Linked DNA regions of Homo sapiens. The protein of the gene in region 1 interacts with the protein of each later gene in a pairwise test. Each region holds a gene or a part of one and is shown on either strand. Other genes may lie near its edges. The genes, in order: CTSD, ZDHHC20, EPS8L2 and SPRY4.

What was found.
Region 2: the proteins of CTSD (region 1) and ZDHHC20 interact in binary tests that used the Homo sapiens proteins (3 or more experiments, as listed by UniProt).
Region 3: the proteins of CTSD (region 1) and EPS8L2 interact in binary tests that used the Homo sapiens proteins (3 or more experiments, as listed by UniProt).
Region 4: the proteins of CTSD (region 1) and SPRY4 interact in binary tests that used the Homo sapiens proteins (3 or more experiments, as listed by UniProt).

Annotation. Positions count from the first base shown.
Region 1 is NC_000011.10:1,753,928-1,760,946, forward strand, and holds part of CTSD (cathepsin D preproprotein), read right to left. Parts: exon of another isoform or gene 6,421-7,019; intron 5,713-6,420; coding exon 5,589-5,712; intron 5,161-5,588; coding exon 5,042-5,160; intron 3,630-5,041; coding exon 3,397-3,629; intron 1,102-3,396; coding exon 979-1,101; intron 212-978; coding exon 67-211; intron 1-66. UniProt on the Homo sapiens protein: Acid protease active in intracellular protein breakdown. Plays a role in APP processing following cleavage and activation by ADAM30 which leads to APP degradation.
Region 2 is NC_000013.11:21,386,303-21,393,321, forward strand, and holds part of ZDHHC20 (palmitoyltransferase ZDHHC20), read right to left. Parts: intron 6,873-7,019; exon of another isoform or gene 6,807-6,872; coding exon of another isoform or gene 6,657-6,806; intron 6,622-6,656; exon of another isoform or gene 6,520-6,621; intron 5,553-6,519; coding exon 5,420-5,552; intron 4,112-5,419; exon of another isoform or gene 3,893-4,111; intron 1,333-3,892; coding exon 1,206-1,332; intron 1-1,205. UniProt on the Homo sapiens protein: Palmitoyltransferase that could catalyze the addition of palmitate onto various protein substrates.
Region 3 is NC_000011.10:701,303-709,230, reverse strand, and holds the start of EPS8L2 (epidermal growth factor receptor kinase substrate 8-like protein 2), read right to left. Parts: upstream 3,001-7,928; 5' UTR 2,943-3,000; intron 2,660-2,942; exon of another isoform or gene 2,148-2,659; intron 1-2,147. Other genes in the region: TMEM80 (transmembrane protein 80), read right to left, coding at 5,245-5,431, 6,085-6,286. UniProt on the Homo sapiens protein: Stimulates guanine exchange activity of SOS1. May play a role in membrane ruffling and remodeling of the actin cytoskeleton. In the cochlea, is required for stereocilia maintenance in adult hair cells.
Region 4 is NC_000005.10:142,322,015-142,329,316, forward strand, and holds the start of SPRY4 (protein sprouty homolog 4), read right to left. Parts: upstream 3,008-7,302; 5' UTR 2,830-3,007; intron 2,234-2,829; exon of another isoform or gene 1,876-2,233; intron 1-1,875. UniProt on the Homo sapiens protein: Suppresses the insulin receptor and EGFR-transduced MAPK signaling pathway, but does not inhibit MAPK activation by a constitutively active mutant Ras. Probably impairs the formation of GTP-Ras.

The DNA.
Region 1 (7,019 bases):
GTGGTAGTGGTGGCCTTGGGGCTCCCCCTGCCAGCCCCAGCCCCAGCCCCAGCCCCCGGCGCTCACCTCGCCCTGAATCAGCGGCACGGCCCCGATGGCCTTCTGCAGCTCGCGCACCTCATCCACCGGGCCCACCATGAGGGAAGTGCCTGTGTCCACAATGGCCTCACAGCCCTCCTTGCACAGGGTCAGCCCGCTGGCCACCTCCACCCTGCGGGGAGTCAGGGCGTGAAGCCCCTGCCGGGACTGGAGTGTGCCCTGGGGGCCCAGTGCCCCTCCCTGGGAGCCCCTCCCCTGGCTGGGCTGCACTCTCCTCCCCTCAGGGCTCCTGGAAGCACAGCCGGCTGTAAGCCCTCCAGGGAAGAGGGTGGGAGAGGAGACACAGAGTGGTAGAGGGGGTGGGAGACCCTCAGGTGGTGGTGAGGGGCATGGAGGGATGGAGGGGATGGAGGGGCATAGAGGGATGGAGGGGATGGAGGGGATGAAGGGATGGAGGGGCATGGAGGGATGGAGGGATGGAGGGATAGACAGATGGAGGGGATGGAGGGTCATGGAGAGTCACAGAGGGATGTGGGGATGGAGGGATGGAGGGATGGAGGGGATGGAGGGATGGAGGGATGGAGGGGATGGAGGGATGGAGGAGATGGAGGGTCATGAAGAGTCACAGAGGGATGAGGGGATGGAGGGGATGGAGGGCATGGAGGGATGGACAGAAGGGATGGTGGGTCATGGAGAGTCACAGAGGCATGGAGGAAATGGAGGGATGGAGGGATAGAGGGAATAGAGGGGATGGAGGTGATGGGGAGCATGGAGGGGCAAGGAGGGGCATGGAGGGCTGGTCTGACCCCATCTCTTTCTTGCCCAGCTCCCACTACTCCCCACATGCAACCCCCACCTGCAGAACCGGGGTCCTCCAGGGTCTCCGCACACCGCCCCCGCCCACAGAACCCAGGGGAGCCGACTGCAGCCACTACTCACTGGTCCAGGTGGACCTGCCAGTAGGCCTTGCGGGTGACATTCAGGTAGGACAGAGAACCCTTGTAATACTTGGAGTCTGTGCCACCCAGCATCAGCTCACCCCCAGGCTGCGCATCTGGGTCCCTAGGAGGAAAAGGGAGGAGTCAGCTGCCACGCCACCCCCCAAGCACAAGAGTGCCAGGTCAGGAGTAAGAGGGTGAATGTGGCAATCAGGGAGAGCTTCCTGAAGGAGGGGCCTTTCTGAAACTGCAGGGATGGAAAGGCCCAGAAGGCAGGAGGAGGGACAGACTCCCTTCTTCCCGGGGTAGGGCTGCTCTGCGTGGGCCCAGCCTGGCCCAGAAGAGGTTTTCCTCAACCCTCAGGTTCTCCTGGTCTGCTCAGGAGCCAAGGTTCAGCCAGACATCAGGGTCAAGGCTAGCGGCAGACAAGGAAGTGAGTGCCAGGAGCTCCACTGGGGAGGACCCTGTCTGTCTGTCTGGAAGAAAAAACCAAAGAAGGCTTCCAGGAGGGAGTGATGGCACAATCTGGGAAGTTGGGATGGCTGGTTCTGGCCGCAGGGCCTCTGCACTGGCTGCTCCTGGGAACACCCTCCACCTGCATCCCCGAGCCACGTCCGCTCATCTCCCCCTCATCCAGACCACTGATGGCCAGCCAAGGTGCTCCTGGGCAGGAGCGCACTGCACTTCCTAGGACCTGCAACCCATGTCGCCCGGGTTTGTTTCTAAACATTGCTCAAGTACAGCTTTCAACGCAGCAAATCCTGCCGGTCCTGGTAGAGAAGCTCTCTGTGTCTGGGGCGGTTCTGCCATCCCGCCAGAGCGTCTGCAGCTAAGCTGGCCACCATCCCACTGCCTGTCACTCGAGGCAGTGCCAGGCCTGACCCAGTCCTCCCAACACCGATTGGGGCCTCCGCCCTCCTCCAGCCTCCTCCGCCTTTGCCTCTTGTCAACACCTCTGCAATCCCAAGTGTAGAAACCTGATCAGCGCCTCCCACCCCTCCTCTCCTCACCAAACATGCTTTCAGAAGCCCTCAGACCCTCCCTCCTGCCTGGCTCCACTTCCTGCCCAAGCTGCTGCCTTGAGACTACACCTGGGCACTCACAACCATGTGCACCTCCCCCACCTGGGCACTCACTCTGTGTGCCCCTCCTTCCACCTGGCACTCATGCCTGTGTATGCCTCCCCCGACCTGGGTACTCATACCGTGTGCCCCTCCCCCACATGGGCACTCATGCTGTGTGCCCCTCCCCCACATGGGCATTCATGCCTGTGTCCCCCTCCCTGACCTGGGTACTCAGGCTGTGTGCCCCCTCCCCATGTGGGCACTCATGCCTGCATGCCCTCTTGCCCTCAGGGGACCCCTTTTCACCTGGCTGCCTCCCCTGTGCCCCAAGGCTCCTGGGGAAATGGCCCAGCCGGTTCACCTGTGTCCTGGCCTCTAGTGAGCAGCTTAGCCCTGGGTGTTGCTAAGGAGTATTCACTGCCCAGGCAAGGGGCAGAGCAAAGAGGCCCAGCCAGCCCTACAGCCGGAATTCTGCCGGAAGCGATCCAAGGTTAGGGGTCAGGCCCAGAGACTCCAAGTGCCAAGTGAGCCACGTGAGGTAAACCTGCCCCTGTCAGCCCTGGAGAGTGTGGGGCAGTGACCAGGCGCAGCTCAGGGCAGGAGGCCGCCGGCTGACACGCTGCCCACCCCCAAAACAAAAGCCCCCAACCCCCAGTCACCCCTCTTATGTGGAACCCTCCACTCAGGTCTGCCCCGAGAAGAGGAAACTAACTGAGTCCGACGTCCCCTTCCCAAGGTCACCTGACCATGGGTCACCCAAGCTGGAGCAGCGGCTGCAGGTGGGGGCCCTGGGGGAGAACCCTTTTCCCAGAAGGAAGGGCCCCCTATGTTCCTCCTCGAGGGCAGCCGGCACCTGCTGGGGACGCCCACAGAGCTGCTCGCAGCGTGGTGCCGGGGACCCATACGCACCCAAGGTCACCTCCCCGGGGATCCCCGGTCCCCTGGGCACCATGACCCTCTCCACCATCAGCAACCCCGGGACCAGGACCACATGTGCCCATCACCAGGTCTGGGGACCGACGGGCCGACTGAACCAAGAGGAACTGCCACGACCCCTGACCTGGGTCCATTCTCATAGGAGGGAGGCCCAGCTGCCAAGGTCCCAGGACCCACAGCCTGGCCCGAGCCCCTCCCACTGGGAGACCCCGGCCAAACAGCTTTCTCTGTGCTGCCGCTTACTCCTCTGCAGAAGGGCGGCCAACCCCCGCCTCCCGGATGCCCTGAGGTCAGAGGTCAGGAGCTCTGGCACAGCAGCAGGGAGGGGGCAGCACTGAGAGGGGGTGCCTAGAAGGCTCCCCGTCCAGCCCCGCCCTGCCTCCCAGCAACGCGGAGCGAGAGGGAACCCACACGCCCACCTGCTCAGGTAGAAGGAGAAGATGTTCTGGTCCACCAGCTTCTGCTGCATCAGGTTGTCGAAGACGGGCAGCACGTTGTTGACGGAGATGCGGGGGTAGGCCATGCCCAGGATGCCATCGAACTTGGCTGCGATGAAGGTGATGCCTGGCTGCTTGGTGGCCTCCCCAAAGACCTGCCTCTCCACTTTGACACCGCCCAGGGCAGAGGCTGACGACGCTGACTGGCAGGGCACCTGCAGGCCAGGGCAGAGTCAGTGGGCAGCAGACAGGCTGAGCCCTACACCACTCCCTGAGCATGAGGCTACAAAACCCAGTTCAATGGATGCCCATCCCACACACGATGGGGCCCAGAGGGCCCAGAAGAAAGGGCTGGAAACCCTGAGCTGAACACCGCTGGGGATGGGGACACGGGGTATGGCGGGGCCCTCTTCGTGGAAGTCATCAGGGCTCGGTTTACACGAGATGGGAACCAGGCAGGAGCACAGACGGGCAGGCCCCTTGCTCCGCTCCCTGCTCCGACCTCTTACTCCCACCACCAATGACAGGCAGGTCCTGCTCCTGCCCTCAGCGCTGGGAACAAGACACAGCCTGGGCCAGGAGCCCGAGAGATGGGGAACCTGCCGACCCCATCCCAAGCTCACAGCCATACTGCCCCCTTCCCCTTCTCTGCCTGTCCCCTCCCCCAGCCCTGGATGAGGCTGCAGAGAGAGAACACGGCCAGAGCAGGATGTGGGAAGGGAACGACAGCTTGAGGCTGACACGGGGCGGAGGGGGCAGAAGAGGGCGGAAGAGGGCAGACGGGGCAATTTCCTGTTCAGGCTGAGCAGGGTCCAGACAGGAGGGCTCTGAGGAGCCCCCAGTACAGACTGGACTCCAGCCCAGCAGGGAACTGTTAGGAGCAGCTTCAGCTGGAGGAAGGGGCCCTCTTCCCGGGTCCCTGGGCCTGCAGGGGGGCTCTGCTGCCCTCCTGGCCCGCTCCAGAGCTGGGGGCTGTGTCACCATCCCGTAACTCCTGAACCCCTTGTGGCCTGGTCCACCCCCAGCAGACAGCTCCGAGGTGAGAACTCACTGAGGCCCAGGCAGGGTGACAAGGGCCAGCTCACCCTCTCCTAGGGCAGGGAGTTGCTCTGCACAGGGCCCTGAGGATGGTGGATGCAGGCGGGGCCCCCAACAGCCACTGCTGCTCCCCCTCCCTTGCCCTCCCAGGCTCCTGCCGGTGACTCTCCGCCAGCAGCCCCCACAGCGGGTTCCTGGTACATCCTCCCAACCCCAAGCCTCCCCAAGCCCTCGGCCTGCTGCAGGGACCCTGTGCAGCCCCAGGTCCAGCCCTCAACACCTGCTGGCACCTCAAACCCAATGTGCCAAAAAGAGCCCGATCGATCTGCCCTGTCCTCCCTCCCACTCATTGTGGCCTGACTCCGGGGACCCCTGCCCCTGTACCCCCTGGGTTTGAGGCTGTCCCTCCAGCCTGCACACAACCAGGCCCATTCCCAGACCCCTCCTCACCCTGCTGACTGCCCCGGCCACCTGAGGGCTGGGGTTGGGCTGGGATCACCGAGCCCTCCCTTTCAACCACATACCCACGGTGGGTGAACCCCACACCCTGGCACCCTCGAGTCCTGGGAAAGGCCCCAGAGGGACTCACCGACACAGTGTCCTGGCTCAGGTACCCGGAGAGGCTGCCCGAGCCATAGTGGATGTCAAACGAGGTACCATTCTTCACGTAGGTGCTGGACTTGTCGCTGTTGTACTTGTGGTGGATCCCTGCCCCGGGCGACAAGGGGGCCCGCCGGTCATCCCGCAGCCCACGCCACGGCCTTAGCCCTCCCATCCCCCTACAATCTACCATGGAGCCCGCACCCCCCAAGCTGCCTCCCCAGGGTGGGATTTGGAGGGGATCTGAGGCCCACCATCATGCCAGAGCCCCGGGACTGTGGGCTGTGACCCCGGGCCTCCCTCCCAGCCACAGCCGGCTCCCTCTGTGGCCACCCCAGCCCCAGCCCTGCTGAGAGCAAGACCACAGCTGGTGGTTCACCCAGAAAGTCAGTGGCTGGAGCAGGGTGGAGGGCTGGCCTGGCTCACGGGGCCAAGAGGCAGGAGAATTGCGTTGCCCAAGTGATTCCTGAGGCAGCCCTGCAGCGACATCCCGGAAGGGCAGGACCTGGGCGACGGGGCCAGGGTTCGTGACTCACAGCAAGCGATGTCCAGCAGTTTGCAGTGGATGGAGGGGACCCACAGGTTGGAGGAGCCCGTGTCGAAGACGACTGTGAAGCACTGGGGGGGCGTCCCGATGCCAATCTCCCCGTAGTACTGGGCCTGGCAGGGGACAGGGTCCGTCAGGGATGGGAGAGGGGGCCCCATCTCCCCACTGGGCCTCAGAAGGCCCGGCTGTCCCCAGAGCCAAGGCCCATACTGGAGGGAGGGGCATCACGGGGCCCACAGCTGCCAACAGCCACCCACTCCCACCTGCTCAGCCTGCAGGGAAGATGGGCCAGGTCCCCAGCCCTCGGTCCTAATGCCCACGGGTACTTGGGGTCTCTAGACCCCTGGCTTCTGTCACCTACCCCTGCTCAATACATGGTGAGGCTGAGGACTTCCCCACGGAAAAGACAAGGCCAGAGGTCAAGCCAGGGTGGGGACAGACGTGGCCCTCAGCCTGAGCCCCGGGTGCAGGAAAGCCCGGCCTGGAAGACTCCCCTGGTGGCCCGCAGTCCAAGGTCTGAGAAAGGAAGTGACTTCCTCCCCAGGTTGGGGCCATGTCAAGGTCTGATTCTGGGTGTCTCAGTGCCTGCCCTGCCCTCCAGGGTGAACCCCAGGCTTGGAGGGCTTCCAGGCAGAGGGGTTCAGCTGGTCAAGGGGAGAAGGTAAGCCTTACAATCACTGCCTGCCCAGCAACCCTGCCTTAATGGCCCAGGGCCTCAGTTTCCCCGTGTGTACACAGGGATAGCAGGCGCAGGTGGGGGTGCTGACTCAGGGATCAGGCAAGTACAAGGGGTCCCATGCCGCCGAGCCTCTCAGGAGGCAGAGAGTAAGAGGGTCCTGGAGTTTGGGGTCGCCTGGGCGCCCGCTTCCCCCAGGATTGGAGCCTGGGCCACCGTCAGCCACCAGATTCCTGGCACCAGCCCAGCCCAATGTTTCTCCAACCGCCTGGCTTCACGGAGCAGCAGCAGCTGCTGACTCATGGCCCCACAGAAGTGACCACTGGCAGGGGGACACTCAGCAAATTTCCATGTGTGTGTGTGCATGTGTGCGCATGCGTGCATCTGCTTGCTCGCGCGCTAGGACAATCAGGAACTGGCCAGTCGGGACCAGGCACACGGCGCCTGGTTCCCCCCAGGGCCCCCCTGGCCCAGTCACATGCCTGTGAGTCTTGGGCTTCCTGTCACAGCCAGGACTCGGGCCAAGCAGGACAGAGGGCAAGGCTCCCCCACAGTGGGCCAGAGCCCCGAGGCTGGACAGTAGGCCCTGGCCTCGAACTGACCCCATAGAGCTGGGACCAGGCTGACCAAGCCCCAGCTTGCTAGGTGGCTTCCAGAGTGCTCCACCTTGGATCCTGCTTCCCCCTGAAGGAGTAGTGGGCACAGGAGGGGCTGTTGCGAGAGGAAGAAGATGGGGAGGGGCTG
Region 2 (7,019 bases), on another chromosome or scaffold:
ATGGTTAACAATATTTTCCAAATTTGATTAAAGCTCTAAAACCAGAGATCCAAAAAGCTCAACTAATACCAAGCACAAGAAACTAGAAAACTAGATCAAGATATACCATAATCAAATTGCATGAAGTAGTGATAGTCTTAAAAGTAGCCATAGAAAAAACATATATAGACTAACAAAAATAAGAGTTATCACAATTTCTTATTAGAAAAATGCAACCCAGAAGCATAACATTTAGCAACATCTAAAATTTTTTGTTTTGTTTTTGAGAGACAGTCTTGCTCTGTTGCCCAGGCTGCAATGTGTTGGCACCATCTCAGCTCACTGCAACCTCTGTCTCCCAGGTTCAAGCGATTCTTGTGCCTCAGCCTCCCGAGTAGCTGGGACTACAGGTGTGCGCCACCACACCCAGTTAATTTTTGTATTTTTAGTAGAGACCGGGTTTCACCATGTTGGCCAGGCTGGTCTTGAACTCCTGGCCCCAAGTGATTCACCTGCCTCGGCCTCCCAAAGTGCTGGGATTACAGGCATGACCCACTGTGTCTGGCTAATATCTAGAATTTTATACCAAGCAAAAATGTCTTTAAAAAATGAAAGCAAATAAGTCATTTTCAGACCAAAAAAAGGCAATTCAGTTAATCTAGGGAAAAAACCCATAACTCTTACAAATATGTCACTCAATCTTCAAATATTTTTCCCTTCTTTTTGATGACTTTGGTATATAGCTGGCCTAAAAAGGATGGAAACTGGAAAGAAATGGAAACTATCAATCATCTCAAGAATATACTCTCATTTACATTTGGGGTAAAATTGCAGTATGTGGTTGGTCTTCTTTGATTTAGGACACAACAGAATACACAATTCATTTCTGTGATAGGATCTTTGAAGTTGTGGCTAATAACTATAAATTTTTATAATTCTTTACTTCAAACAAGTTATTTGCATTTTGAAGAAAAAATCTTATTTTTTTAGTGAATCATCTTTTTCTTCTACTTCCCATTCAAATATATAAACTCTCCTTAACCTTATCTAATTAAAAAATGAAAAATAAAATATTTTATGTATAAAAAAAGATATTTTGAGTTTTCATTCTCAAAGTCTGTGAGAATATCATTATATATTATATTCTCTAAATCTGAAGACATTTAACCAGAAAAAGAGACTACCACAGATGCCATAATCTCTGAGACCCACATTTTATAAATTACCTTGAAAATATTGGAAGTAGCCAATATTTCTTTTCATCACCAAAGACTTGTCTCCAATTTTTACTGCATCCAAGAGAGAAACCATTTCCATCAGGTCCGTATGAAAACGTGGGTGCGCGGAATGATTCTGTTAAATATACATACATATATAAACTAATTAATCTATTTAAAAATTATAGGAGGGATGGAAATTACCAATTTTCTTGCTTATATCTTTGACACAAAAACTGTAAATATAATTTAAAATAAATAATACATTAGTAGCAATTAAAAGATAAATTTATGAAACTTATTTTGGGAAAAAATAGCACATTTAATATTTCATCAACCTTATAAAGTAACATGTCAAAATAATTATCAAATATTACTGAAAATCTAGTATTGTGTGCTCAGTATCTCTTGGCTTTTTTTTTCTACAAGATATTCTAACTCCTGCAACTTCACTCATTATTTATGAATTTCCTACTATGTTCCTGATAGCACTGTACCAGGTATTTGGGATTCAAAGATAAATTAGATAAAATTCCTACCAAAGAACCTAGAGTCTAGCAAAAATTACAGTGTTATAAGTGCTAACATGGCCATGACGTACTGGGAGCACAGAGGTGAAGGAAGCTAATTTTGTCTCGATAGAGACATATGTGTGCCTCGGGGGTGCTTGTAGGGAAAGGTGAGCAAGCTGAGGATGACTAGACCATTATTTCAAGCTTGGTTGTTAAGTGATGTAGAGTGAGGTCTGGAGAAAGATACAGGCTTCACAAAAAATGTTTTTTAATTTAAAAACAAGGCACTTCAGTGTGTTTTATAAGCTAAGGATAAGAACCCAGGGCATTGGGAGGGATTGCTGATATAAAAAAGTAAAATAAAAACTGAAGAAAGGGATCCTAGAAGAGATGGGAAGGAGTCTAGAAAAGTTGTAAAGGTTAACCTTGAATACCAGAAAAGACATCTTTCTTCCTCAGAAGTTAGAGGAAGGTGAGAGTGATGGGTGTGAAACAAGAAATGTTTGTATGAGGCTATAAAGATGTGAAGATGAGAGTTTACTTGTGACTCCTTCTAATTTTTCTACTAGGAACTCATAAAATGGGTAAGGAGAGTGGGAGAATTATGAAAATCTGGAATAACCATCTTGGGTAACAGGTGAGGGACCTGACCAGAAACATGTGACATTACTGCCAAACAGAGCTAAGGCCCTCCATGAGGCCTAACATCTTAAATCTGTAGCTATAGCAAACCTTATGGAGTAAGACATCCTTCTACAGCTTTCAACAGCCCCACTGTGCACGCGGATAGAGGATGGCTGGATAACCAGAGCCATGAATTAGCAAAGGAATAATGGGAGAAAGTCTAGGCACCAAAGATGTAAGGAGCTGTTTTTGTCAAGAGCTGTTAAAGTCATTTATCATAGGATCTAGAATGGACATGGGTGAGAAATAAAACCAGAAGGGAAAGAAAAACTTAGGAGAAAATTGTTGGAGAATAGAAGACTCAGGAAGTACATCAGAATACAGCAAATAGAGAATAACATATTCAAGTTTAAAATTTCATTTTCAGGGGCTCTTCAGTTCTAAGCGATTAAAAAACTCAGAATCAAAGGGACTAGCTTGCTTGTTCAGGATAATGGCATTAGCTTAAATGTAGGAACTCACTAAATGAGGGTAAACGATCTCAAGGTGGGTAGGTGACAGTTATGAAGAAGACAGAGGTGATACAGCAGAATAAGACACCCTCAAAAGACCCAAGAACAAACATCTGAATCAGTGGAGAACTAGCTAAAGACCAGGGCTGTGGGAGATGAAGCTGTTAGAAAGTGGTGTGCTAAGCAATGTTTTTTCAAAGTGTGGGTTAAAACACCTTAACAGACCACATAATCAACTGAGTGACTTGCAACCCGCATTTCCTTTTAAGAAACTAGAAAAGAAAATATCAGAATATACTGCATATAGTAGAGATTAAAAAGGTTTTGTGAAACTTTTGCTTGTTTTATTTATATAATTTTATAAATATTTGTGCATGTTCTAAGTCATGATATGAAATGCTGCATTTCTTACTGTGGCCACCGGCAAAAAAAAGTTTGAAAAAGATTGTTCAAGAGAATAGCAGGTTCCCTAGAAATGCCAATCTCTCACATACCTACGGGGGCTGGGCAGGAAACAAAGAAGGCACGACTGGCAAGACCTGCAGCAAATGACAGTGTCCACACCCTATCTAAATCCATGCCCTATCTTGGGCAGTCCACCACTGCTTAGCTCCATTTCACTGACGCCAAGTGGGAAAACGGGCCTACTACCACTAGATTGATCAGTTTTGAAAAGAAGAAATCTGGTTTTCTTTGTGAAATCACTCACATAGATTTTATTGGTTGGGGAGAACTTAAGGGCTGGACTTTGCCTGTAGGCTGCCTTTTTATCATTTTCAATTAAAGGTAAAGAGATGGCATAATATTCTATAAAGATGACAAAAAAAAGTAGTTAATAGGGATAAGAAATTTTATTTACATGGAAAAGGGATGAAAGCATGATGGAACTGGAAGAGAAGGAACAAATCCTCACACTGGAAGCCCACCATAACTTACAACACAGCTCAGTAACACAACGTTAAAATGATCCAATAACTAAAGCATCTACATGTCTCACCCCAAATCCCTTAATTTTTCTGTAATTAAAAACTGTTTCCCTCCAACTTACCTGGCAGATATATGGCTGCAGATTGCAGGTGGATTTTAACTTTTTTACAAAACACTACCGTAAAAATCCTTATTTTGTGTCTTGGTTATGTTAGCAGATACATGAATATTTCAATGATAACATAGCAGTACTTCTTACATGTCAATAGCTCAGTGAGCAATGCCACCATTGCTGTTTAGGGAATGTTTGTCCAATTACGTGAATACCTTACTTTTCCCCCTATATTTTCATTTTTTAAAATGAGCAAACAAAAAGAGAAATAAATGTTAATACTAGTGACACAATACGTAAGTCTCACTGACAACTGACACAAATATGGAAATAATGAGGCATGTCAAAAGCACTATTCCTTAGCCTCAGTCATGGAACATATGCCAGTTAAATGTGTTTAACTGTGGGGGAAAAAAGTAAAGAATATATATGGGCTGGGCAAGGTGACTTGCATCTGTAATCCTAGCATTTTGGGAGGCCGAAGTGGGAGGATCACTCAAGCCCAGGAGTTTGAGACAGGCCTGGGCAACGTAGCAAGACCCCATCTCCATAAGAAATAAATAAATTAGCTGGGTGTGGTAGTGCACACCTGTAGACCCAGCTACTTGGGAGGCTGAGGTGGGAACACTGCTTAAGTCCAGGAGGTCAAGGCTGCAGTGAGCTGTGATGGTACTACTGCACTCTAGCCAGAGCAAGAGTGAGACTCTGTCTCAAAAAAAAGAAAAAAAAAAAAGAATATACATGAAATACATTGTTATGTTTTAGCTAAAAGATAAGCTGTAATTGAGGATATAAAGGTTTTCTTATTTGAGAACAAACTTCCTTAAAGCATGTAAATCTACTGTCTATCCCTTATAGATTAATTTTTTTTTTTTTGAGATAGGGTCTTACTCTCATTGCCCAGGCTGGAGTGCAATGGTGCAATTTTGGCTCACTGCAGCTAGTTTTGTTTTGTATTTTTAGTAAAGACAGGGTTTCTCCATGTTGCCCAGGCTGGTCTCGAACTCCTGCACTCAAGTAATCCATCCATCTTGGCCTCCCAAAGTGCTGGGATTACAGGTGTGAGCCACTGTGCCCTGCCTCTTATAGATTAATTTTTGAAACGACACTGTATGAATGCAGGAAAGTTTTCATTTATTAAAATTTATAAAATAGTTCTCCACTTTTATATATAACACATTACTGAAAATGTGTTAAAAAGTCAATCTCATTTCCTCAACCTTCTCCAAAATAATGAACCTTTATTATAAAACCATTGTTCCCATCCAGTCACAATTAATTTTACTACAGAATTATTTTATTATTTTTATTTTTTAGAGACTGGGTCTCCCTATGTTGTCTAGGGTGTCCTCCAGGGCTCAGGGGATTCTCCCGCCTCTGTCTCTGCAGTAGCTGGGATTATTAGGCACGTGCCACCAATTCCAGAGTCAGAATTGTCTTACACTTCTGTATCATCTGACCCTTGTTCTTCTCTAGATTTCATATTTATTTATGGTCATTGTCCTAAGTAATTATAATTTATTTTAACCTACTTACCTATTGTTGTTCTATTTTTTCCAACTAGCCAGCAGTGGTAGCTGAAAAGTGAGAGGACGCTGATGAAGAACATTGCAGACACAAAGAAAAGAAAAAGTACGTGGAATTTTGCACGTGTATCTGTCAGTTCATTCTGAGGAAAAAAAGAAGTTAATTTTGAGGTCAACCTCTAAAATATAACTTACAAGTTAGTTCTGTCTAAAGATTGTTGAATATATCAAAATACTTGCCATATTTGAAAACTAATAAATTACTTAATATATCCCAATGCAACAAGGGCAAAAGCAAAGAATTGGTATTACCAAAGCAACCTGCTTATCTAGGAGTTCAGGAAGAGTTATTTAAAATACTGCTCTTAAATTTTTTTTAATTTTAGCTTGGCATGGTGGTGCATACCTGTAATCCCAGCTATTGGGGAGACTGAGACAAGAGGGTCACTGAGCCTAGGAGTTCTAGGCCATCCTGGGCAACACAGTGAGACCCTGTCTCATAAAAAAAAAAAAAAAACAATAGCAATACTTCCAGTAATAAAGTGAAAAGATCGACTCTTCTACCCAACAAATTTTCTTTTGTACTTTATGTATATATTCAAGCTTTCTCCAACATCCGACATATATAAGCTCCCCATATCTATACAAAAATATTTGCTTATTTTATTTAGATTTGCTGCTAACTAAAAACTAATTGTGAAATATTTTTGGACTTCTTTAATCTCTATTTTCAGACCACCTTACCCATGCCTTCAGCTGCTTCAATTCCTACTTTTTTCATCTGTATGTCTACAGAGCCTTTGTGCATAGTTAGCAATTTTGATAAATAAATTTACCACAGGTATTAATGAATGAAAACAGCTTCTCTGGTATCCCTTCTTATGGCTATATACATTTTAACAGAAGCAAACTAGAGCCTAGAAGAAATTAGTACCTTTAATAGAAGGAGGCAGCCTTTAAATGTTAGCTCTTAAAATAAACCATATAGGCAAAGCATCTACTCCACCAGAACACGAGGCTGTTCTGCTTGATTTAAAAAGTATTACAGACTAAAAGAAGACTATTAGCATTAGGTTATTGTGACATTGATCTTTTTCTCTTTTCTTCCAGAGTAACCAACATGTTTCAAATGTTTCAAACATATCAAGTGAGTCTTCTGACCATTTTGTGAAGCAAATTTTTATTAAACATATTCACTATAAATGTCACAAAGATCATGAGAATGTCATGGTAATGATGTATTTTACCTTTGGACAACTCTCTGTAGACTTCCTGCGGCAAAGCTTGTGCAAATAGAGACATATATTAAGAAACCAATTTTTATGCAAAATTATCCTAAACACTAGTTTTATAAATCCTGTTGAAAGAACACTAAGATGTTGCTTTCTAATGGCCATCTATAACATTTTCTCAAGAAATACAAAAGAAAAAATAGACAAGAACATGTAGCTGTTCAAGCACATTTCTTTTCTTTTTTCTTTTTTTTTTTTTTTAAAGATACAAGGTCTTGGCTGGGCACGGTGGCTCACACCTGTAATCCCAGTACTTTGGGAGGCGGAGACAGGCGGATCACTTGAGGTTGAGTTTGAGACCAGCCTGGCCAACATGGT
Region 3 (7,928 bases), 1.1 Mb from region 1:
GGTCCCTTGGGGGGCAGAGCCCCTGCCCGACATCCCAGTTGGCCCCACGTCCCAGTTGGCCCCACGTCCCAGTTGACAGTCGATCAGCCTCGTCATGCCTCAGACCCTAGGTGCTCCACAGGGACCCCCCAGAGGCTGACTGGGAGGCTCTGACAAGGGCCCTGGGGGCAGAAGGCGCCTTCCAAGCTGGGCAGCATGGAGTTTAAGGCCCTGGTGCTGTGGGGAGGGGGGTGGGATGGGTAAGGGGAGGGGGATGAGGTGGGAGTGTGGGGGGAGGGGGGTGCGGTGGGGGTTGGGGGAGGGCGGGTGGGAGCTGCAGGATGGCAGGAGAGGTGAGGCTGGAGTTGGGGTAGGTCCTGAAGTCCAGAGGGAGCCCGGCTCTAGCCGCCACTCCTGCCCCACCCCAGGCCTGCACCCCAAGGGGCTCCTGCACCCACATGTGGACTTGCCACCCACACATGCCACCTCTGTCCAGGCCCCAGCAAAGAGGCTGGCCCTTGGCTCTTTCCTGGGCCTGGGAGACCTGGCAGGGAAGAGGCTGTGCGGGCAGGAAACCCTGGGGTCCCCGGGGTGCAGTGTTTCCTCACCTCGAGGGCAGGGATGCGGCCAGGTGGCCAGCGCAGAACCCCTGGCAGCAGCCAAGCCTAGGGGAGGGACTGGAGGGCAGGTGTGGTGGGGGCTGAGACTGGGAGCCAGTCCAGTGGCCCCAACACACAGTATCACTGCCCCTCCAACGAGGTAGGGTGGCTATGGGGCAGGTGCCTCTGGCCTCCCCCAGGGGCAGAATCCTCAGAGCCTGTCTCTGGGCTCCTAGTGCTGACCTCTTCCCCGAGCATTTTGGGGAAACTAAGGCCCAGCCGCCAGGGCAGACAGGTGGGTCTGATTTGGGCTGGACCCTAGGGGCTTCCCGGGGGGATGGACAGAGCCTGATGGCCCTGAACCAGGCTGACTTGTCCCAAGGGGACTATGCCCTGTGGGGACCTGGCTGTTCTGTGGCTCTGTGATCAGCTCCCCACAGGTCCACACCATCTGCCTCCTGCCAGGGCTGCAGGGCTGTCCCCTGTGGCTTCAGAGTTTGGGTCTGCCACGGTGGGGGTCACCAGCCACTGCTGTTGGTATGGAGGGTCAAGGGAGTGGCTCGGAGCACCCGGGACTTTCTGGTTTGACCAGGTCTGGCCTAGTGGGAGGGTCTGGGAGGCCCGGGGGCACTGCCGCTGACATGAGGGGCTGGGTGCACCAGGGGGTATGGCCACTTCCTCCATCCATCTATCCGTGGAGAATGTCTGGAATGTTCACGGGCTCAGTGGCGAGCCTGAGTGTTTGCTTAATGGGATTCCTGGCGGGCTCCACCAAGGGCGCCAGGCACGTGTGTCCAGGCACACACCTGGGCGAGACACCAACGCACCCTTGCAGACTCAGGCCTGGGGGCACGCAAACATGGAGGGCTGTGACACGCGACCCCCCTGGGGAAGGCCAGGTTCCTGGCCTTCGGTTGCCTGCAGGGCATCGGGGACCTCAGGCCCAGGCAGGGCCGGGCAGCAGTGGGGTGGGTCCAGGTGTGGTGTCTGGGTCTGAAGCACATGGGTATGGGGCTGCCTCCTGCCCTGTGGGAGCCCCGCCCCCCTGGGGAGGCTTCTTTGGCCCACTGGTGGTGGGGACGAAGCCCTGGAGGCCCAGGCTGCACTTTGTACTGTGGTCATTTTCCCGGTGTGAAGTGAGGCAGAGCGGGGTGCCCGGTCAGTCGGGCTGTGGAGGGGAGGAGGTCCCAGCAGGGCAGGAGGGTAGAGGGACGGGCTCCAAGTTCAAGTTCCAGCTCCACATGCTGAGTGACCTTGGGGAGGGGTCAGCTGAGTCACAGGGGCTCCAGGCTGCCCTCATAGGCGCTGGGTGGGGCCCTGGAATGGGGAGGCCCCTCAGGCCCTGGCCCTGTCCTTGTTTGGAAGCTATGGCTTGAGGGAGGAAGGGATAAGCTGGGGAAGCTGAGGGTGGGAAAGGAGACCGAGGCAGGCGGAGAAGGCCCGGTGGGAGAGCTATGCCAACAAGGCCTGGGTGCTAAGCAGGCCCGGGAGAGGCTGGGACCCAGGAGGGGCCGCGAGGGGAGGAGGGGCCGCGAGGGGAGGGGCCGCCGCCAGCTGGGCCTGCCTCCCAGCACAGCCGACCCAGGACTGAGCACGGGGTGGGTGGGGGCAGAGGTCCGGGCATGCCCGGCCCTGCCTCCCCCTCCCCTGCCACCAGGGACACCCCGCAGCAAGGGGCAACGCCAGGCAGCTGGACGCAGGGACCAGGAATCTAGGATGGCTGAAGTTCGCGTGCCCACAGGCTCCTGCCAGCCCACCCTCCTGCCTCTCCTGGCAGGGCCTCTGCAGCCCCTGTCCCAGCCTCCCCTCCTCCCTGAAACTCCCACCCCCAACCCTGACCTGGAGACTGACCCAGCTGGTGCTTCCCGGCCACTGGTTTCCTTCTGGGCTCCGACACCCAGGAAGTGCCTCCTGGCTCCGGCCCACAGGGAGTGGGTGTGCAGTGCTACCTCCACGGTCAGGCCCTCGGGAGGGTCCTGCTGCTCACAGAACCGGGAGAAGCCTCCCTACCACCAGCGCTCTCCGGACGCAGGGATTGCCCCCACCAAGCCCCAGAGCTGGGAGTGGGCAGGACGGGGCAGGTGAGTCACCCATCGCTGGCTTAAAAATATCCTTGCTCGCCGGCCGCCGCCCAGGACCGACGGGGGCAGGCCGGGCTGCAGCAGGACCCGTCCAGGAGAGGTGGGGACTCGACCAGGCCCCCAGCCCCTTGCCCCGCGCCCTCGGCCCGGCCGCCCTCCAAGTGCCCCGCGCCCTGCGACGCCGCGTTCGTCCCGGTGTCCTGAACCAGAAGCCCCGCGTCCCATCGCCACCGGGTAAACTGAGGCCCGGGCGGGCGCGCTCCCCCGTGTCCGCAGCGCTCACCTGCCTCCGGCGCCCCGCGCTCGGCCTGTCCCCTCGGCGCTCGCCGGTGCGTCCGTCTGTTCGCGCCTCGGCCGGGGCGCCAGGTCTCCCGCGGGCGGGTGGGACGCTCGGCGGGGCCGGGCCGGGGCGGGGCCGGGAGAGGAGGAACCTGAGCGACAGGTTGCGGAGTCACCCGAGAGCGGGCGGGCGCGCGGGGGAGGAGGGCGTGGGATGGAGGCGCCCCCGCCGGCCTCGGACCCAGCTCCGCCCCGCCCCCTGCCCCGCCTGGGCTCCAGCCCCAGCCCTCTGCGTCCTCCCCAACACCCGCCTGGTGTGCCCCTCCGCGGGCCTAGCCCCTAGAGCTGGGGCGCTGGGGACAGGCGGGGCGCAGGGCCGCCTCCGCGGGATGAGCAGGGCGAGGCCTCGAGCTCTTCCTTGGGCAGGGCCTAGCTGCGCCCCAGCAGGCCGGGGGACGGGGGAACGCTGCCAATGGGACTTCGGGGGCAGCGCTGGCGCATTGCTGGGGAGGGCTCCAGCCCTGGGGAGGTCAGAGCCTCCGCCGGGCCAGGTGCACCCCTCAGGTGCCCCAGGCATGGGGCAGAGTCACTTCCCTTACCGGGCCCACCGCAGGCCCAGGGGCAGAGGCTTCGGTGAGTGGGTGGGTGTCAGGCAGGACCCAGCCATGCCCACCCCAGGCCTGGAGCCCTGAGTTCACAGTGCAGCTGCTCCTCCAGGCCCCCCTTTCTGCCCAGCCTGGGCACTGAGGGATGGGGTGTCAGGGGAGGTGGGGACACCTCAGGCCCTCTCAGGATGCCTCTCTCCTTGCACTGCCCCGTGGTCAGGCCCAGGCCCCACCTCTGCCCACCACAGTGGGACTGTCTGGTTCCGTCCTCATCTGCCCGGCTTCCAGGATGGCCCTTCTCCCCAGCTGCTGTGACCGCTCAGAACAGGGCCAGGGTGCAGTGGACACAGCGGGTAGCACCGGCTGCCACAGCAGTCAACTGGACGAGGACGAGGTGAAGGGGCACAGGGCGCCCCAGGCCCATGCAGGGACCCAAGGCTCCGGCTGCCGGTCCTGGGTAGGGGTGGGAATGAGCGTGGCCAAGAGTCTGGGTCCCCGGGCTATGGTCCCAGAGGGGCAGGGCTAGCGTGTTTACCCTGGGCTGGCCGGAGCACTTCCTGGGGAGGCGCCATAGGTGAGCTCGGTGGAGGGCTGGCAGGAAGTGGCCCTCCTCCTTCGGGCCCAGTGCCTGCCCCTGAGCCCAGGCAAGACCTGGCTTCCTGGTTTACAGCCTTTGCCGTTTGATCTCCAGGAACCTGCCGTGATCCTGCTCCATGCATGAGCTTGCCCTGACCCAGAGCTCAGGGTCACACACGCCAACCCCTCGGTGCACCCGTGCCCTCACCCTTCCTGGAGGCAGAGCTGGGAGTGGCCAAGTGGGAAACAGGCGCTGGAGAGGACAGCTGGGGGGTGGGGTCCCTCTCCACTCCTAAACGGGTGCCTGTCAACACGATTTTGAGTGCGGAGCCTGCCCTCAGGAGACAGTCCAGGCTGGCCTCTCGGGCCCCATCCACTCCGGGTCACCTGGAGCCATGGCGTTCCCTGTGGAACAGGTGACCACTGCCTTTGTGTGCTCGCTGAGACTGGAGGTATCAGGATCCATTAACCATGAAGGCAACAGGTCTCCAGCTTCAGGGAGGGGGTCCTTCCCTGGTCTGCATGGTTTGTGGGCTGGGTCCTCCAGATGGCAGGTGTGCCCAGCTGGTCTTCTGCGAGTGCAGGCGCTGGTGAGGGAGGTGGCCCGAGGCGCTCAGGCGCTGGTGTGTGAAGTGGGTCCTCAGGGCTGTCCTGCAGCTCACCGTGGCCACTGGGGGCCACAGACAGGTCAAAGGAAGTCGGCCCAGGACAACTGGGTGCTCCCACCGCTTCCACGAAGACAGGCAGGAAAGACTGTCCAGGTGCCACAGCCACAGCCACCCCAGCCGAGGGAGCCCCAGTGGAGGCCCAGGACAGTCCCGCAGCCTCCTGCCCTCAGGAGTCCACCGAGCGGAAGGCGCCCGGCAGCCAGGGCCCGAGGGCGAGGCCAGCCAGGAACTGACCAGCTGGCAAGTGGGGTGTGCTCTCTTGCAGGGCAGGAGAACTGGAGATGGGGTGGGGGAGGTGGCCATAATTAGGAGAATTCAGGGAGGCATACACATCTCTTTATTTACAAAATGCGGTGAAGAGAAAATATCTAGATATTTGGGTGTAATTATTCCAAACATAGAAAACACACAATAGAATCAAGTGAAGGGAAAGCTACTGTAACAGCTTAGATACTTTTTAAGGAGAACTGATAGTAAATCTGGGAATGGGAAAAAAACACAGAGCTAGAATTTGTTTAGCACTCCGTGCAAAAGGCAAAAGCTGATAAAACTGGAGTGGACGGAGGCTCCGAATGTGGCCCTCCGCTGCTCTCTCTCCTGCAGTCTCATCCCCGGCCTTAGCCCTGACCTCTCCTCCGAAGCCCCTGAAGGGAGAAGTGTGGCTAAGATGGAAATTGCTAGGCAGCAGAGCTGTTGGCTTGTTTGCATTTATTGCTTTAGGAACCCAGAGTCCACTCTTGCACCGGGCCTGCCTGCCTGTGAGGCAGAGCTGGGGTTGCTCAGAGCACAAGGCCTACCCCATCCTGCGTCTCCAGCCCGACTTGGAAACACAGGTGGGGCCTGGCCACGGAGTAAACTGGGATCTCAGAACACAAATTAGGACCATTGGGGAACTAGGGGGTGATGGGGGATGCAGTGAGATGAGGCCTCTGTTCTGAAGGGCTCTGTCCTCCCTCTCGGCCCTGGGGGCCCATGGGGGTCTGTGGAGGCCTGGCTGCTAAAGCCAGACCCCACTGACAGGGCTGAGTGTGCGCTCCTGGGACTCATCTTGAAGGCAGTTCTGTCTGGTCCCTACCCTCCCCGCAGCTGTTCCCAACACCAGGGCCTCCAGCAGTTTGTTCTGCCCTGGCTCCTGCTCCCACTCCTGCCAGAACAGATGGAACCATCCAAAACCATCTATGGCCAGTCACTAGGAAAAGTGCCCTTCCTGTCCAGGAATGGGGAGGTGACAGCTGGGGGACTGGTCAGGCCCAGGAGGAGGGCCCCAGTGTGGGGTATCCCGGGTGTCCGTAGCTACCTGGTGAAGGCCGCGATGGCAACCACCTGCAGGACGGCCTCCAGGCCGTGAAGGGCCAGGAGCGTGGCGCTGAGGGCCCAGTCCGCCCACAACACTAGGGCCTGCCAAAGCAGGAAGTGGGCAGAGAGGAGGGCGGTGCCAGCCGTGAGGGCCAGGCTGGCGGCCAGCGGCCTCTCAGCCTCTGTCAGGTTGCCCCTGGTGCCTGGAGAACAGAGCAAAGGGGAGGGAAGGTGGTGCGAGGCGCTCCCTGGAGCCCACCGCCCACAGGTGCCTGGAGGGCTGCTGGGACCAGAGCAGCTCCTTGCCCTACGTTCCTCCGGGGCCTGGGGAATTCCAGGGAAACAGCCTCCATGGCCACCCAGAACTCAGGAGAGCCAGAGAGCATGGGCAACACAGGCGTGAGCCCCTCCTGGGGGAGGTGCCCCTGCAACAGCATGGTTTGATCTGTCTCTGGGTCTTCTGGGTCGGCTGTGTGGGCGGGGGTGAATTTGGTTTCTAAAATGATTCAAGTGCATCTGCCACGTTTTCCTAATTCCAAGTGGAACTGAAGGGATTTTTTTGAAAAATTCCCAAAGTATTTTTCTCTGGTCCAAGGCCAGTTCTGGAAAATTTCACGAGTATGTATTAAAAACAAAACTGCGTATTTAGCAAACAAATGGGTCAGTCACTAGCTGAGCCCAGGTGCCTGGAGACCCTGCAGTGTGCGGCGCGCTTGGGGAGGGTCCCGTTGGCCTAGCAGCCCCCAGCAGGGCCAGGCCACACCCTGTCCCCACCACCTCAGGGCAGGCCCAGGCCCCAGAAGATCAGCCAAGAACCGGGCCTCTGTGCCGCAGCGGTGCTCGCACCCTCCCAGCAGTGCCCGCCCTGGGGGGCAAGCTCTAGAGGTTCTGGGACGTAAGTGCAGACAAGACACTGACGGCCGGGCACCCCTCAGTGGGATGGGCAGCTGAGAGAACTCGCCTCCATCCTCCTAGTGTGTCTGAGGCCTGATAACAAGAGGAAGGGTGGGGGCCACCCTTCCCCGCAGCCTTGGTTCCTCACTGGACATCAGGCATCAGGGGTGTATCTGTATGTGAACAAGAGGGGCCCAAGATTCCAGCCTGGCAGGGGCACAGCGCCCTGGAAGTGCCCATTGCGTTCCCCACGGCAGGACAATGTTTCACAAACACGTGTGTTTAGGTGCACATGTTACGACCATGAGCACGCAGAGGGCTGGAAGTCTGCACCCCGCTGGCCACAGAGGTGAGCTCTGGGGAGGGCGAATTTCCATGTTTTACTTCTGCACCCCTTGAATCTTGTACAAGAACATACCCTTGAACAAATTGTGTGGTTAAAAAAAGGGGAGTGAGGCCAGGCACTTTGGGAGGCCAAGGTGGGCAGATTGCTTGAGCCCAAGAGTTCAAGACCAACCAGGGTAACATAGCGAAACCCTGTCTCCGGCCGGGCGCGGTGGCTCACGCCTGTAATCCCAGCACTTTGGGAGGCCGAGGTGGGCGGATCAGGAGGTCAGGAGATGGAAACCATCCTGGCTAACATGGTGAAACCCCATCTCTACTAAAAATACAAAAATGAGCCGGGCGTGGTGGCGGGCACCTGTAGTCCCAGTTACTCGGGAGGCTGAGACAGGAGACTGGCGTGAACCCGGGAGGCGGAGCTTGCAGTGAGCCAAGTTCACGCCACTGCACTCCAGCCTGGGCGACAGAGCGAGACTCTGTCTCAAAAAAAAAAAAAAAAAAAAAAGAAACCTTGTCTCGTCTCTACCAAAAAAAAACAAAACAAAACAAAACAAAATTAGCTGGGCGTGGTGGCAGGTGCCTGTAATCCCAGCTACTTGGGAGGAGGGG
Region 4 (7,302 bases), on another chromosome or scaffold:
TGATTTTCAAATTTGGCACTGAAAGGCTGCTTTCATTTATTATTCACGAAAGTCAGCCAAACCTCTGGTTTACCAAAGTTGGGGCTGGGGTCATGGGTGGGTGCGAACTGGGCAGGACAGATTTCCAAAGAGCCACATCTCTCCGCCAATTCTGGGAGGATGCAGATAAAAATGACATATGAGGCCGGGCGTGGTGGCTCACGCCTGTAATCCCAGGGGAGGCAGAGGCCGGCGGATCATGAGCTTAGGAGTTCGAGACCAGCCTAGCCAACATGGTGAAACCCTGTCTCTACTAAAAATACAAAAATTAGCTGGGTGTGGTGGCACACACCTGTAATTCCAGCTACTTGGGAGGCTGAGGCAGGAGCATCATTTGAACCTGGGAGGCGGAGGTTGCAGTGAGCCAAGATCGCGCAACTGCACTCCAGCCTGGGTCACAGAGCAAGACTCGTCTCAAGAAAAAAAAAAAATATATATATATATATATAAATGAAAACGACATCCGTAAGCTCCAAATGTCCACCTGTCCACAGCCTCTGCCCTACTATGTGTTCTGTCTCCTCCCACCAGCCCCCAACTAAAGCTTCAGTGAGATGAGGCCATTTCAGAGGGTGATCTGGAAAAGGTCATGGAGCTGGGCAGGAGGGCTAAGGGCAAGAGGGCATTTACACTCCACTGAAAGGGAGTGACTCCTGATAACCAACAGATGCCTTTAAAGTCTGCTCACTGTAACTGACCAATATTTGTCCATGAAGATTTCAGAAATCTGCTACTAAAATCCCCACCCTACACCCGTACTGGCCACATGGCGTGGTTGGTAAGTGTGTGTGCTGTTCACCACATTAGGATTTGCTGGAGCCTCGCAGCACGTGAGAACCCTCCCAAGAGATGGGAAAGAGGAAATGTGATTTCACACTGGACATCTCCACTAGTTCTTTCCCACCCTTCTGGGAGACAGAGAGGGAGAGAGAAAGAGAAATCTTTAACTGCAGCCCTGCCTCTCCTAGCTCTCCTGACACCCGCCCTAAAAAAAAAAAAAAAAAGGCTGAAAATTTCAGAGATGTTTATGCTCCATTTGTGTGAAGATCTGGAGAACTCCAAACATTGTGAAATCCACCAGTGCAATATTGGGTAGGGCCTCAGGCCAGACTGAGCTCATTAAGAGATTGATAAACCCGCAGTTCCCAACTTCTCTGAGCCTTATACCTTCCAGCTTTGAATCCCGAGAGACTTGTCAGGGAGGTTAGTGCCTCGGTCAGCTACAGACACAGACGAGTGCTTGCTCCCGCCCCTCTGCAAGTTCTTTGGCCTCCAGTGTGTCTGGCCTCTCCCAAAACTGGAGAGAATCACGCCACTGATTTGGAGGCAGGAAAGAAGGGGATGCCACTAGGTTTGGGCACCCCACTGTACACTCTTCTTTCCAGCACTAACCGCGCTGGGGGGTACGGAAGCCTTGCTGCGCCAGAAGGCGGCCTCCTGCCCTCACAGAGGCCTTGGCAATATGGATGCCCCTCCAGCAGCTGGTGAAAGAGGCAGCCAGCAGCTCCCTACTCTGCCTACCATCTAGCCCCTCCAGCCCATTTCGCCTCTCTTGCCCATCCTTCAGCCCTATAAGCCACGCAACCATTTTCTGTCTCCCCTGCCTCTCCTGCCCACAACCCCCTGCCCCCAATCAAGGAGAATTGAGAAACCGTCTTCTTGCACAAGAGCAGCTACTGTCTAAATGCTTTTTGATCGTCTGCATGGAGGGGGAACTGGGCACAGCCCTGGACCCAGTGATGGAGCCAAGCTCTAGCTGCCCTGGCTAGCCAAACCCGCCCTCACCCAGCTCACTGTCCCCGGGGTCTTGGCGATTCAGAATTTGTCAGAACATACCGTCTCTATCCTCTTCTCTGTGATGTCAAGCCTGGTACCACCAAGAAGGAAGGAGGGAAAGCAGGAGCCTTATCTCTCCTACATTCGCAACCTCTTCCTCCAGCTCCCACACGCCTGGTGTTATGTAAACGCACCTTCAACCCCCACCGCAGCCCTAGCGCGGCCTGGGGGCTCCGGGGCCTGGCACAGCTCGGTGCCCGAGGATAGGGAGGTACAGGGTGGCCGAGGAGCCTCAGGCCTTACAGAGGCCAGGCAAGAAAAAGTCAACTGCAAGGCAGTTGCATAGCATAAAATGCGGCAGCGGAGCAAAGGTCAGACGGCGAGGAACCGCCTCGCCAAGGAGAGGGAGTAGGAATGCCCAGTCCTGAGCCAGCCCCTCGCTGACCATCGAGGGAGAGGCAGAAGGGGAGGGAATTCAGTCCGTCACGGCTCCGAAGAGAAAGAAAAAATCTACGTCGAGCATAGGCCGCTACGGCGGGCTGGGAGATACACGGCAAAGCTGGCACCGTGGGCACCGAGCTGGGAGGTGGGCGAGCCGCCCAGAGCGAGGGCGCCCCCCGACCCAAACGGTGGCTCCTGACCAAGCCCAGAGACGCCCGTTCCAGCGTTCGAGGCGGATGGTGGCAGGAGAAGGAAAGAGGCCAGGCCAGAGGCAAACTCCCGGGACACGCACGGGGCTTCCCGAGTCTCAGAGGGCGGGGAAGCCGGGCTTGGCAATGCCCAGGGGTCGGAAACGGCGGTGCCAGGCTGTGAACACCCCCGGCGCCGTGCCGGCCGGGCCGAGGGCGTCAGGGAGCTGCGGCGCACCGCAGCGACTCAAGGAGGCGCAGGCTGAGGGAAGGAACACTGAGGCGCGCCTAGAAATAGCGCACCATTTGCCCCAGCCCAAGGGGGGAGTCGCGTCGCGGCTCAGAGAGGGGCAGTTTCAGATCTCCAAACCAGCCATGGACTTACTTTGAGGAGCTGCAGGGTCACAAGCATCGCCCCACGTCTGTGTAAATCCTGAAGCCGGGGCAGGTTAGCCGCCGCTGTACTCGCAGACGCCGGTCGGAGGAACCGGCAAGGCTCCCTGCGCTCCACAGCGCCAGCTCCGCGCTGTCAGCTCAGCTCGCTACCTCCGCGGCGATGTTGCAACCACTGCCTGGGAAAATGGCTTTTTTATGAATGGGAGGGAAGGGAGCGCCAGTGCGCACGCGTGCCGTTCGCGATTCTATGAATGGGTGGGCACAACAGACCCTGAGCGCGCATGCGCTCCGCTCCTTTTTTTATGAATGGGGGGCGGGAAAAGATCTTAACCCGTGATTGCTGGGACTGGCTCAAGCTCCACCAGGAGCCGTCGTTCTTTTACAAAGAGGGGTGGAGGTTCCAGTGGAGGCTGTTGTTGCCTTTTTTTTTTTTTTTTTAATGAATGGAGGGCGGCGGCGACTGCTGCAGCTGGGCCAGCTGCGCGGGCTGCACCCCCTCCCAGCCTGCGAGAGGAGGTAAAGGCCACCTTCACGCCACTGCGGGCCTGGGCAGGAACCGTCAGTGTCGCTGGGGGGTGGGGGACGCTGCGGCCTCCGGATCCCGGGTTGAGAGCAGGGTGGTGGAGGGCACACCTAGATCTGGGGATCTCTGCCCCCCGCAGGCAGTCAAAAGGGGGGGCGGGAGGACCCCTACTGGGGGCCTTCTCTTGCTCTAGACCAGAGACGCCAGGCGGGAGGGGTCTTGAAGCTGCGTTTACCAAAAATTAGGAAAATGTCCATCATTCATATCAAAGGGTGGGGTGAGGATTGGTGAGTGAATCTGGTTCTTTTTCCTGAGGCTGAATCTCTCGTGAGTGCTGGCCGCCCCTCCCCCCATTTCTTGGGTGTAGACAGTGACTGGGCCCAGGCCTCTTCCGGCTCCAGTACCCCCCGGGGCGATTCTGGCAACTCAGCCAGAGGAAGCCTGGCCCTCGCCTCCCAGCGTTCCCCCCGCCCCCCGCCCCAGTGCAATGTCCGCAGTGCCCGGGCGTCTGCCCGCTCTCTGTCGCCCTAGCTAGGTGTCCTTTCTCTGTCCCAGTCGGTTTCCCAGCCCTCACAGGACGCTGGCCTGAGGAGCCTCGGTCCACCGAAGGCCCACGGCCCTTCGCTGTTGTAGGCGCCTTTCCCCAATATCCCCCACCTCTCACCGGCCTCCCCTCCGGGGAAGTGGGAGCGGCCGAGAACTGGCCAGGTGGATGGGTGGAGCCGGCTGCGCCGAGGATGCTGCCGGGGTGGCCTCAGGATTAAATAACAACGGGGCTCTTGAGCCGCAGAGGAAATGGAAATGGCTGGGGATCCTTTCTTCGCTGTTAATGATGGTGGCGTTGGGGGGCGGGGGTGAGGATCAGCTCAAGCCGGTGAAAAGAAAAGCCCCCGCCATTAGGCCTGACTCCAGGAAGGCGGGGAGCCCTCGCAGCAGGCCCTGCTCCTCCCTGGAACGGAGGAGCCTGTAGCCTCCGGGAAGTCCGGGGCGGGGGGTGGCTTTGATGCGTGGATAAGAGCAGAGTCTGGGCCAGGGCTTGGCCCTGAGTCCCTTGTAAGGTCTGTCTTGCCGCTGTTCTGGCCGCACGGGGAGATTGTGTGGCAGTCTTTTTCTTCCTACGCCACTATAGGATTGTGCTTGGCTGTTGTCAGAGGAACCAATGAAAGGCTCCCAGCCCAGGGCTGAGGTCTGGCCTAGGGCTGGGGCTGGGACTCTAGAGGCAGGCAGCCCAAGGTCACCGAGTCCTAGCCTAAAATGCCTTCTCACCATTCGGCTCACCCCTCCGTGTACTTACCCAGCTCCTGAGGGCAGAGCAGACTCTCCCCTAGGGAACCTCAGCCTTCCTTTCAGGGGCGAGACCTTTCTCTAAGACCAAGAGAACTCTTCGCCAGAAAAATGGGTACAGTTGTCCAGGACTTCCTTTTAAGGCTGTTGAAGTTCAGTATCGCCCTCTCTGTCAGCTGTAGAAACTGAGGCCAAGGGTCCTGCACCGGGTATATGGAAGAGCTGGTAAATTGTAGCACTTATTTTCTAGGTCTTTGCAACCTGGCTTTACTTTGCTACCAACCCTTCTCAGCATCACAGACCTAAAAACCTGTTTCTCGCATGTCATTTAAGCATTTTAAACAATGAAAGTTGAAGCAGTAATTTTCCAGCTGGTGCTCACCCATGGCCCTTGCTGAAACAGTCAGAAGGATGGGAATAAATAAATCTTAAATCTATGGCAGAAAAGGAGGATTGGAGGAGCCGCGGGGAGGGGGGTTGCTATCCTGTTTTCTTTATTAGAGAAACTCAGGAGACAGACAGGATTACATTTCATAGTCTTTCTCAGCTTCCCTGAAAGAGAATGCGAGGAGACCCCAGCCTGTGGTGGGGAGAAGGAGGAGCTCCCAGTCTTGAGCTGGGAGGGGCCTCTGATGCTTAAGTACAGCGAGATTCAGAGCGTCTAGAAGGGCTCTGGAGGTCATATTCTGGTTGTGCTTGGAACCTAAGCTGAGGAATGGTTTGGAGCAGCAGTTATGAAAAATTCATTCATTCATTCATTCATTCATTCACTCATTCACTCATTCATTGATCGATTCTGTAGTGGGGCCTGCCCTGACTCTGGAGACTCAGTGGTGAGGGACAGACAGCCCTCCCTGCCCTTGTGAAGCTCACAGTCTTTTGAAAAGACAGACAGACAGGCTGCAACATGAGGTTCTAAGTGCTAGGAGGGAAATGAGCTTTCTCTGGGGTATGTTGCTTGCCGGGGAGGTGGGGGATGGTGGAAGGAGCTGATTCTGATTTGGTCATCAGGGAATGTCTCTGAGAGGGCGGCTTCTAGTTGTGAGTTGAGACCCAAAGACTGAGAAGTGAATCTGAGGGAGGACTGGAGAAACATCTCAGGCAGAGGGAGCATGGGTGGAGGCCGTGTGTGGGAAAAGCCTGGCATATTAGAGGCACTGACAGAAGGCCTCTGTGGCCACAGCTTTATGAGCAAGTTTGAAGTGAGCCTGGTGAGGAATTCAGATGTCATCCCATTAAGGATTTTAAGCAAGGTCTGACACATTCTGATTTGTGTTTTAAACCTCTCCAGCAGCCCTGGGGCCACAGTTTAGGGGGTGAGGGGACAGAACGAAAGGTGGTTGGGGAATGCAGAGCATTTGCTCCATTGCAGGGTGAAGACATCATGTTCCTTCTTTAGGATTGGGTGGCCGGTAGGTCTGTGCTGGATTTGTTTTTCTGCTTCATCTGACTCTGTTCATTCCAAAGCTACTCGATGTCTTCCCCAGGTATAACTTTCCTGCTAGAGGCACATCCTAACAACCTTGCATTCCTGCCAGGGCTAATGACAATCTTTTACCCTGATTCCAATAAAAACAGCGTCACTCCCACCAGATTGTGGCCAGGGGAGTAGAGTAGGTTCAGTTTTGAGCTTTGTTCTTTTATTAATCTCCTAGGCTTGCTAGGACCTGGAGTTAGTGGGATTGAGGAGAGGCAGGAATTCCAATTCAATGACAGTCACTTCTGGAGCACTTACTGTATGCCAGTTGTATGTGCAGCATGTTTTCATATGTAAAATTGTTTCAAAAAGCTGGGTCTTTGGCTGGGTGCGGTGGCTCACGCCTGTAATCCCAGCACTTTGGGAGGCTGAGGTGGGTGGATCACAAGGTCAGGAGTTCAAGACCAGCCTGGCCAAGATGGTGAAACCCCGTCTGTACTAAAAATACAAAAAAATTAGCCGGGCGTGGCGGCATGCGCCTGTAATCCCAGCTACTCCAGAGGCTGAGACGGAGAATTGCTTAAACCTGGAGGGGCGGAGCTTGCAGTGAGCCGGGATCGCGCCACTGCACTCCAGCCTGGGTGACAGAGCGAGACTCCGTCTAAAAAAAAAAAAAAAAAATGGGTCTTGATTGTGTCACCCCTCTTTTGCAGACCAGAAGTGCAAGGCTCCATTTTAAAATTTTATTTATTCCACAAAAAATTGTTTTTTTGCGTGCTATTTTTGTGACACACTTCTTATGTTTCAGGCATAGTGCCAGCTGTTAACAGTTATAGTGAGAAAAGGGACAGACACAATTTTTGCTCTTATAGGGCTTATAGACAGTGGTGATGCCACAGGGAGGGCATGGAGAGGTGAGGATGGCATGTGTTTTCTTCCTACAATCTCCATCAGAACCCCCATTCGTTTCTGTGTTCAGTTGACATTTCTCAACCTTAGTAAGTATTATGCAATGGAAGCAAAGGCCCCCCTACCCAAACAGATTATTTCCTTCCACCTGTGTAGAAATTCTGGACTCCTACCATTTATAGTCAAGTTCGGGAGATAGACATTAAACAAATAGTTGATCAAAGAATCACTTAATTACAGTTAACATCAGCAGTGCATACAAAGTACAGAGAGCAGAGGAGGGGGGCACAGCCTGAGGCCCTCAAGAAGGTTCCCCAGAACTCAGATCT